Regions from separate parts of the Homo sapiens genome. Here region 2 is linked to region 1. Evidence: fine-mapped expression QTL. A gene starts in region 1. The other region holds a variant in brackets. All regions are shown on one strand. Distances are from middle to middle. Region 1 holds the start of LINC00304 (long intergenic non-protein coding RNA 304). Region 2 has its middle 55 kb from the start of CBFA2T3.

The links. PIP is the estimated chance that this variant, and not a neighbour inherited with it, causes the effect.
Region 2: its variant is fine-mapped to the expression of LINC00304 in whole blood (TOPMed, PIP above 0.99).

What each region holds. Positions count from the first base shown.
Region 1 is chr16:89,156,948-89,162,329 of GRCh38, forward strand. It overlaps LINC00304 (long intergenic non-protein coding RNA 304), which reads left to right and starts at 2,273. Exons shown (of 4, transcript NR_024347.2): 1 at 2,273-2,443; 2 at 2,761-2,934; 3 at 3,269-4,612. RefSeq lists enhancers at 2,169-2,338, 2,722-3,221.
Region 2 is chr16:89,029,299-89,034,680 of GRCh38, forward strand. No RefSeq gene overlaps it. Among named protein-coding and RNA genes, the nearest start is that of CBFA2T3, 55 kb to the left of the region's middle. RefSeq lists enhancers at 2,802-2,861, 2,872-2,931, 5,141-5,382. The variant T/C (reference allele first, on the strand shown) is at 2,626.

The DNA.
Region 1 (5,382 bases):
GGGGCTGCCTTCCTGCCAGGTGTCCAGGCCCAACACACAAGACCTGAGCCTGCTCTGCCTCAGTTTCCCTACTCTGTGAACTGCGGCTGCTGCTCTCTCGGGGCCCTTCTAGCCCTGGCCAAGGGGTGGGGGCTTTGTTCCCTCGGGCGTCCTGTCCCTGGGGACTGGCCACACACACACCACACACTGCCCTCCCACCTGGACTCTGTCCCAGCGGCACCAGGGTCAGGAGCAGGAGCCTCAGGACCCACGCAGCACCAGGCACAGCACGGAGTGAGGCAGTGGGCGGTGTGGCAAGCGCTGTGTGCACCACTAACCTGGAGGAGCCACGGCTCCCGGACCCTCGTGTCAAAGCTGCCGGCCTCCTTTGCTGGGAGCCTGAGAGGAGGTCCTGGTGCAGAACAGCAGCTTGTTGCCAGCCACAGTGAGAAGGTGGTGAGTGTGCCAGCCACTGAGTTAACCATCAGTAACAGGAGGCGTGTGCAGACAGGTGTGGACCACAGGTATGTATGTCACATGCCTGCATACGTCACATGTATGTGTATCTCACACGCCTGCATACACCACAGGTATGTATGTCACACGCCTGCATATGTCACATGTATGTGTCTCACGCCTGCATAAGTCACATGCATGTGTGTCTCACGCCTGCATACACCACAGGTATGTATGTCTCACGCCTGCATGTCACATGTATGTATCTCACACGCCTGCATGTCACATGTATGTGTATCTCACATGCCTGCATATGTCACATGTATGTGTATCTCACACGCCTGCATACACCACAGGTATGTATGTCTCACGCCTGCATATGTCACATGTATGTGTGTCTCACACGCCTGCATAAGTCACATGCATGTGTGTCTCACACGCCTGCATACACCACAGGTATGTAAGTCACACGCCTGCATGTCACATGTGTCTCACACGCCTACATGTGTCACATGTATGTGTATCTCACACGCCTGCATACACCACAGGGATGTATGTCTCACGCCTGCATATGTCACATGTATGTGTATCTCACATGCCTGCATGTCACATGTATGTGTCTCACACGCCTGCATACACCACAGGTATGCATGTCTCACGCCTGCATATGTCACATGTATGTGTATCTCACACGCCTGCATGTCACACGTATATGTCACACGCCTGCATATGTCACATGTATGTGTATCACACACCTGCATACACCACAGGTATGTATGTCACGCCTGCATATGTCACATGTATGTGTGTCTCACACGCCTGCATATGTCACATGTATGTGTCTCACACGCCTGCATAAGTCACATGTATGTGTCTCACACCTGCATACACCACAGGTATGTATGTCTCACGCCTGCATATGTCACATGTATGTGTATCTCACACGCCTGCATATGTCACATGTATGTGTATCTCACACGCCTGCATACACCACAGGTATGTATGTCTCACGCCTGCATATGTCACATGTATGTGTATCTCACACGCCTGCATACACCACAGGTATGTATGTCTCACACACGCCTGCATATATCACATGTATATGTGTCACACATGCCTGCATACACCACATGTATGTCACACACATCTGCATATATCACTTGTATGTGTCTCACACACCTGCATACACATATATGCCTCACACGCCTGCATCTATCATGTGTGTGTCTCACACACCTGCATATATCACATGTATGTGTCTCACAGCTGCATACACCACAGGTATGTGTCTCACACACGCCTGCATATATCACATGTATGTGTATCTCACACGCCTGCATATGTCACATGTATGTGTATCTCACACGCCTGCGTATATCACATGTATGTGTGTGTCACACACACACCTGCATACATACAGGCACATGGACACCTGTGTGCACACCAGTCCCTCCCTTCCCCGTCACCATCAGGTTCAGCCGGGCCTGTGGTCACTGCTTCCCCGAGGCAGCTGCAATGGGGCCCCGGCTCCCCCTACATGGTGCGTCTGATCAGGTTGGGACTCGCTCAGGTAGCTCTCATCACAAGGTCCTTGTGCACTGTTGCGGCTGCTCTTGGTGGCCCTTCTAGAGCCTTCCTGAGCCAGAGCAGACTCCTGCTCCCCCCAGACCCCCTGGGAGTCGATTCTGTCCCCTTCTTCCTGGCCGCAGGTCGGTGCAGCCGCTTTCCTGCCTGGAAGAGTAAAGTGGACCCTGTGTGAAAACATTGACGACGTGGCAAATGAGCAGCAAATTGATCAATACGAATGATCACGCCCCATGTGCATCTCCTCAGCAGCCACAAGAGAGACGAGGTCACTGGAGGATAAACATCCGTGACTGCACCTCATGATCCATCACGCACGACGGCCGCAGCATCTCCTGCCAGCTGCCGGCACAGACAAGAGCACGGGATGGACGACCGCGGTAGCAACGTGGGGCTCATCTGCCTCTCTCTGAGCAGGAAGCCCGTAGGTCCCCACAGGCGGGTGCACGGAAGGGGTGGGTCCTGGGCCCAACAGGCACCCCCTGAGCACCAGCCCGTCTGAGGGTGGGCGGAGGGCGCTGCCGCAGGTCCCCACATACCCAGCGCACGCTCACCCCACACTGGAGGCACCTGCCGGGTTCTGACACCCCTCGAGGTGCCTTCCCAGGGTTCTCACACCCACTGAAGGCAGCGCGCTCAGCCTGCTTTGCACATGAGCCGCTGAGGCAGGCGAGTTGAGGGCGAGGGTGTGAATCACGAGCTTGGGGCCAAAGCCCAAGGTCGTCCCCTCTGGCCGGCAAGCTCAGGCTCACACGGGGAGCCACCAGGCTGGACTGGGTGCAGCTTACGGACGTGGCGCGTGCTGTGGGCGTCGGGCCGCGGCTCCTCCATGCAGTACTTACACTGCTGTCTGCAGATCGCACCCAATCAGGAGGGAATGGTCCAGGCAGGTGGGCAAGGCCACGGTTTGGCCAGGTAAGGCTGGGAGGGCCCAGGATGATTGTGCGTTGAGCCAGGCAGATCTGGAGAGGCGGAGGGATGGGGACGGAGCGCCATGCAGAGGCCGCTCGGTCCTCAGGAGCTGAGCATCACCCTGGGAGTCTCAAGGAGGGTGTCCCCTGGCCTTAGCGGGCAGCCAGGGCCAGCATGTGGTCTGTGGCAGCCGGTCTCAGAGGTGGCCTGGTTCGCAGTCTTGCTGGATGGAGATCCCCAGCTCCTAGGGCAAGGGCAGGTGGGGTGGGGCCGCCTCGGTCAGCTGATAGGAACTGAACTGAGAAGGCTGTGAGCCGCTGAGTCGCCCTAACTGCAGGGTGGTCCTGCGGGCAGTACTGAGCCCGCCCTGCTGGGCACCCCACAGCCCCTGTGGCTCTCCAGCTGCCACTGAGGCCGGACGCCTCATGAGGAGGCTCCCATCTGTGGGTGGCAGAATGACGGCCCCGAAGACCCCCCGCTTCCTCACCCGAAGACCCCCCGCTTCCTCACCCGAAGACCCCCCGCTTCCTCACCCGAAGACCCCCCGCTTCCTCACCCAAAGACCCCCCGCTTCCTTGCCCCGAAGACCCCGCTTCCTCACCCTGGGACCTGTGAGTTCACACAGCAGCGGGGACCTGCGACTGTGGACGGCACATCAGCTCCCTCAACAGGGAGGCTGCCCTGGGTGACCCGCGAGGGCACAGGGTACCTCCGTCCTGCTGAGTGGAAGAGGGAGGCCATGGCGGAGGCGGGCGTGAGGGGGACTGGCCTGCCACTACTGGCTTCGTGAGGGGCCCCCAGCCAAGGAGAGGCCTCCCGAAGCCGGAAGAGGCGGAAAATGGATTCTCCCAGGAGCCTCCAGAAGGAACCTTGGTGTTGGTGGAATGGGATGTGAGAGGACACGCGGGTGATGTGTCTTGGGTCACACCAGTTCCCGGTCCCCGCACCAGCCCGCCCTGGGCGGGAAGCCTAAGAGGAATGGAGGGGCCATCGTGGGGCTCTCCCGGAAACTGGCCCCGGGTGCCTCGGTCCCTGCGTCAGTGCGGGGTTTCGGTGGCCGCCCTGCTGGCTCCGGGCACTCCCTCCGTCTTCCTGCCACGCGGCTGGTCCTTCCTGGGCTGGGCTGAGTCACCCTCCATGCCCACCCGTCATACCCGGCAAGAGCTGGGGGCGTGAAGCCAGGCCCAGGTGGGCTGTGGCGGCATCCAGGTGGAAGGACGTGGAGGACTCGGAGGCGGAGGGGTCTCCAGGGCAGGGCAGGGCCAGTTGCCTGGGGCCATCTGCTGTGTCCAGGAGCCCGGCGCTGCCACTGGCCTTGCCCCAAGGCCCAGCTCTGCCCTTCATCCCTTCAGCACCTCCCCGTACCTTCCTTCCATGGGTCTTAAGCTGTGGCAAGTCCTTAAGCTGGGACGGCCAGCGCCAGCCCTGCCCCCAACAGGTCACTCAGCGGCTCGGAGCCCACGTCCTCCTCGGTGACACAGGAAAATGGTGCAGTTGTGCAAGGGCATGAGAGGGTCCCGTGGAAGGCACATTCCAGAAGGTTCTGTCCCATGGAAGGCACGTTCCGGAAGGTTCCATCCCATGGAAGCCACGTTCCAGAAGTTTCCATGCTGTGGAAGGCATGTTCCGGAAGTTTCCGTCCCGTGGAAGGCACGTTCTGGAAGGTTCTGTCCGGTGGAAGGCACGTTCCAGAAGGTTCCTAGCCCAGCTCCAAACACAGGCTGCAGGCTCAGCAGAGGGGTCTTCTTCTTGCCCACAGTCCCTGACCAGTGGGCTCCCCAGGGCCCTGTCGGAGCTGGAATGGGTGGAGCTTGGTGCCTGCAGGCCAGTCAGCACATCTTCAGAATCCATGGTGCTCCCAGGCTGGCCCAGGGCCTTAGGAGCACAGGGTGGGCACAGGACCCCAGGCTCTGCCAGCCAGGCCCTGACCGTCCTGGGCCAGCCGCTGCCCCCGTTCTGCATCCGCCCCTGTGCGATGCGACCTCTCTGGTGGCGCCCATCCCAGCTTCATTCCCCTGTGGGCCCTGCTTCAGTCTGCCTGGGACACGTGGGCGCGTGTGTGAGTTCGCATCAGCGAGCATGCGTGCAGCGTGTCACATATACATACACGTGGGCGCACCTGCACACCCATGTGTCACAGAGGAGGGAGACGGACTCACACGTGGTGGCCCTAGCCACACCCTCAGTCCTCTCTAAAGCACCAGCCGGTGCCCACCCAGGCAGCCCCTCATCATAGGCTCACAGGGCACGCCCCCCATTGCCAGTCTGACCAGACACTCACAACCATTCAGTTACTCTAGCCACGGAGTCATCAGTCTCCTTCATTACCACCTGCCCACCCTCCTCTGCCGCACAGCAAAGCCCATTAAGACAGCAGCAATGCGAGCAGCACGTGGTGCCTTTCATGCATCAGCCGCTTGCCCATATTCCCACCCCATGGGGAAGAGCTTC
Region 2 (5,382 bases), 130 kb before region 1:
GGACTTTATATTAATATATGAGTAAAGGGGACTTTATATTAATATATGAGTAAAGGGGACTTTATATTAATATATGAGTAAAGGGGACTTTATATTAATATATGAGTAAAGGGGACTTTATATTAATATATGAGTAAAGCGGACTTTATATTAATACAGGAGTAAAGGGGACTTTATATTAATATATGGGTAAAGGGGACTTTATATTAATACAGGAGTAAAGCAGACTTTATATTAATATATGAGTAAAGGGGACTTTATATTAATATATGAGTAAAGGGGACTTTATATTAATACAGGAGTAAAGCAGACTTTATATTAATATATGAGTAAAGGGGACTTTATATTAATATATGAGTAAAGGGGACTTAATACAGGAGTAAAGCAGACTTTATATTAATACATGAGTAAAGGGGACTTTATATTAATATATGAGTAAAGGGGACTTTATATTAATACAGGAGTAAAGCAGACTTTATATTAATATATGAGTAAAGGGGACTTTATATTAATATATGAGTAAAGGGGACTTTATATTAATACATGAGTAAAGCAGACTTTATATTAATATATGAGTAAAGGGAACTTTATATTAATATATGAGTAAAGGGGACTTTATATTAATATATGAGTAAAGGGGACTTTATATTAATATATGAGTAAAGGGGACTTTATATTAATATATGAGTAAAGGGGACTTTATCTTAATACAGGAGTAAAGGGGACTTTATATTAATTCATGAGTAAAGCGGACTTTATATTAATACATGAGTAAAGCAGACTTTATATTAATATATGAGTAAAGCAGACTTTATATTAATATATGAGTAAAGGGGACTTTATATTAATACAGGAGTAAAGCAGACTTTATATTAATATATGAGTAAAGGGGACTTTATATTAATATATGAGTAAAGGGGACTTTATATTAATACAGGAGTAAAGCAGACTTTATATTAATATATGAGTAAAGGGGACTTTATATTAATATATGAGTAAAGGGGACTTTATATTAATACAGGAGTAAAGCAGACTTTATATTAATACATGAGTAAAGGGGACTTTATATTAATATATGAGTAAAGGGGACTTTATATTAATACAGGAGTAAAGCAGACTTTATATTAATATATGAGTAAAGGGGACTTTATATTAATATATGAGTAAAGGGGACTTTATATTAATATATGAGTAAAGGGGACTTAATACAGGAGTAAAGGGGACTTTATATTAATTCATGAGTAAAGCAGACTTTATATTAATACATGAGTAAAGCAGACTTTATATTAATATATGAGTAAAACAGACTTTATATTAATATATGAGTAAAGGGGACTTTATCTTAATACAGGAGTAAAGGGGACTTTATATTAATATATGAGTAAAGGGGACTTTATCAATACAGGAGTAAAGGGGACTTTATATTAATTCATGAGTAAAGCAGACTTTATATTAATACATGAGTAAAGCAGACTTTATATTAATATATGAGTAAAGCAGACTTTATATTAATACGTGGGTAAAGGGGACTTTCTATTTACTTCATGTTTGCCACCTCCAGGGCTCTTCACGTCTTTGTGTGGATCTGAAATTCCATGTGGCATCATTTCCCTTCAGCCTGAAGGGCTTCCTTCACATTTATTTATGTACAGTTCTTCTAGTGATTCATTTTCTCAGATTTTGTTTATCTGAATGCTTTATCTCACCTTAATTTTTGAAGGACTTTTTTTTCCTGCAGAGTGTAGGATTTTGAGCTCACAGTTCTAACACTCTAAAGATACTGTTCCATTGTCCTCTGGCTTGCATTGTTTCTGATTAGAAGTCAAAGATTTTGTTTGTTTTGAGAGGGAGTCTCACTCTGTCACCCAGGCTGGAGTGCAGTGGCACGATTTCAGTTCATTGCAACCTCTGCCTCCCTGGTTGAGGCGATTCTCGTGCCTGAGCCTCCTGGGAAGCTGGGATTACAGGTATGTGCCACGATGCCTGGCTAATTTTTGTATTTTTAGTAGAGATGGGGTTTCAGCCTATTGGCCAGGTTGGTCTCGAACTCCTGACCTCAGGTGATCACCCGTGTTAGCCTCCCACAGGGCCGGGATTATAGGCATGACCTGCCATGCCTAGGCTCTTTGGATTGTTTTTATGTATCCATCTTCAAGTTTGCTAACCATTTCTTCTGTAGTCCAATCCTCTGTTGGACTCATCTAGTGAATTTTAAATTTTAGATATTATAATATTTAGTTCTAGATTTTTTAATATCATTTCCCCTTCCATAGTTTCCATTCTTTTGAGAATCTCTATCTCCTCACTCATGTCTTTCTCTTCTTTTAAATCTTTCTCTTTGAATTCCAACATCTGTGTCATCTCTGGCTCTGTTCTATCAACTTCTCTTCTGGTTAAATTTGCCTGCTTCTTTGCATATATAATAATTTTTATTGTATGCTGAACATCATGGAGGCTATATTGAGAGTTTGGATGATGTTGTCATCTTTAAAGATGGGAAGTTTTGTTCTAGGAGATGGCTGTCAGCTTGAGTTTAGACTTTGCGAGGGCAGGTTCTCAAGCAATCCTTAGCCTGTGGCTAGGATAGTCCTCCTGAGACCTGCCTTACTGGGGTTGTCAGCGAGG[T/C]CTTTCCACTCAAGCTGTTTGGGTCACACAGTGTCTTCCAGCACTGTTTTACCTCCAAACTCTTTCCTCCATGCAAAACGCTTTGTCTTGGCCAGGCCTTGTGAAGTCCTTCCTATACGGCTCAAGGGAACTCCTGTACAGATTCCTGGGCTCCTTTTCTTTGCACAGCTTCCTCCTTTCTGTTCGCCGCAAGTTGCGGACACCTCGGCAGCCCCATACTCCCCGCTCTGCTTCTCTGCCTGTTGAGACATCTGTGCTGGGTTGAGTCCCCACTTCCTTGTCCTGTGGTTTGGAAAGTACCTCCCAGCAGAAAGCTTGGGTGCACGTGGAAATATCTGTTGTGCAGTGCCTGAAAACAGTTCATTTACATTTCATCCAGTTAAACAATTGTTTATAGAAGGAGGATGAGCCTGACGGACACCCGTGATTTTTATCATGGCTGGGAGTGGACGCCATGCCCTGCCTTGGCAGCATCCTGCCTTCCCACTTGTAGTGCCGTTCCCACCACACCCTCAGTCCCATCAGAGCCCCTCGTTCCTCCTGGCCCCATCCACACGCTACATCTCAGTAATGCGTCCCTGATCTGCACTCTGAGCCTCACCCGTCCTCCCCTGATCTGCACTCTGAGCCTCACCCGTCCTCCCCTGATCTCCACTCTGAGCCTCACCCGTCCTCACCTGATCTCCGCTCTGAGCCTCACCCGTCCTCACCTGATCTCCGCTCTGAGCCTCACCCGTCCTCACAGGCGTCTTCACTGCTTGTGTGCCCTCTGAAAATTCTCTGTGGCATCTGGCACAACGTGGCTTCAACAAAGGTGGATTTATCTGAATTGGGGCTGAAGCAGTGGGAACTGCTCTCACGAACCACTCCTGGTCTTTCAGTTGGGCCAGAGCCGGCATTTAAAGGCGTGGAGGGGAGTCTGGACTGTCAGAAATTCAACCTCTTTATTTTCTAGATGAGGAAATGGATCCAGAAAAGTTTCATAATGTATTTCAATTATGTCATTTATTTATTTATGATTTTTTAAAATTTTGAGAGGGAGTTTCACTCTTTTTGCCCAGCCTGGAGTGCAGTCGTGTGATCTCAGCTTACCGCAACCTGCACATCCCAGGTTCAAGCGATTCTCCTGCCTCAGCCTCCTGAGTAGCTGGGATTGCAGGCATGTGCCACCATACCGGGCTAATTTTGTATTTTTAGTAGAGATGGGGTTTCTCCATGTTGGTCAGACTGGTCTCGAACTCCCAACCTCAGGTGATCCACCCACCTCGGCCTCCCAAAGTGTTGGGAGTACAAGCGTGAGTCACTGCGCCCGGCCTATTTATTTATTTATTTATTTAAAGTATCAAACAGCAGCCATGAGTTAGGCTCTGGGGATACAGAGAAATTGCTTTGCCCTCAAAAAGCTCTGAGATGGTAGAGTGGGGGAAATAGAGGAATAAACGAGTGGCATCCACTCAGGACCCTGCGTGGTGTGAGCTTGCCGGGGAAAGCCTGGTACAGGCAGGGAAGACCTGGAGGAAGGCAGGGAGGCTGAGCTGTGAGGTCATCGGGAGAGGGCCAGGAAGGGGCACGTCCATGCCACCGGGAGAGCATGTGGAAGGGCCCCAGGGGCCCTGCGAGGACAGTTTTGAGGGTGCACGTGGTGCCCTGAGGATTTGGGGCAAGGGCTGGCATGGGAGGGTGAACTCGATGGGATGGCAGTGAGGAGCAGCAGGAGGTTCCAGGCCAGGGCAGGGTGATCCAGTGTGTTGTTTCTGTCCAGCCACCGTGGCTGGACAGGCCAGAGGAGAGGGGGTGTGGGAGGCAGTGGGCAGCTGGGAGCTCTTCCAGAGAGGGGGTCATGGGATGAAGCAGAGGAGGTGGGCTCTAGGGGGACTCAGGAGGTAGAAGGGGAAGCAGACCCCCTCCCCACAGCCAATTTGCTGTTCCAAAGCTGAGACCAAGGCCCGAGGGCACCCAGGGAGCGTGTGTGCTGCCATTCACCCTGCATCTGTGCTGGTGCTCCGGTCGTGGTGCCGGGATTTGCTCTCACTGGTGAGGGAAGAGACTTGGGTTCATGGAGGGGCAGAAGGTGCCATGCCCTGGCTCACACAGCACACGGGCAGGGCTGGGGCCAGAGCCCAGCACTCGGACTGCAGGCAAGTGCATGGCCTCCCTGGGCGTCCACCCGCACTGCAGGGCTGAGCTGAGCAAATGTTAGTGGGTGGCCAGAGCTGCACGTGCACACACACACTCAAGCATGGGTTCCCCCCCACAAGTTCACACACACACTCACGTGTGGATTCACCTGCACTCACATGCGTGGGTTCACCCGCACGCATTCACACACACATGTGTGGGTTCACCTACACTCACACTCATGCTTGGGTTCACCCACACGCACTCACACACACACGCGTGGGTTCACCCGCACTCACACACTCCCACACGTGGGTTCACTCGTATGTATTCACACGCACACTCACGTGTGGGTTCACCTGCACACACTCACATGCACACTCACACGTGGGTTCACCCACACGCGCACACACACAGAGCACACTCTGGCGCATGCATGGACACAGTCAGGCCCGTGCTCTCTGAGGTCCGATGGAGGGCATCGTTCTGGGAGCTTCCCTGACCCCTGGGTGTCCCGCGCCTGCCCTCTTCAGTGGTGGTGGAGGCCGGGCAGGCCGCGGTACCAGTGGGAGGAGAGGCTGGCTATGGAGTTGGTGCCTGGCATTCTTTCCTAGCACACTTGGGGCACCTTCCCTGGCA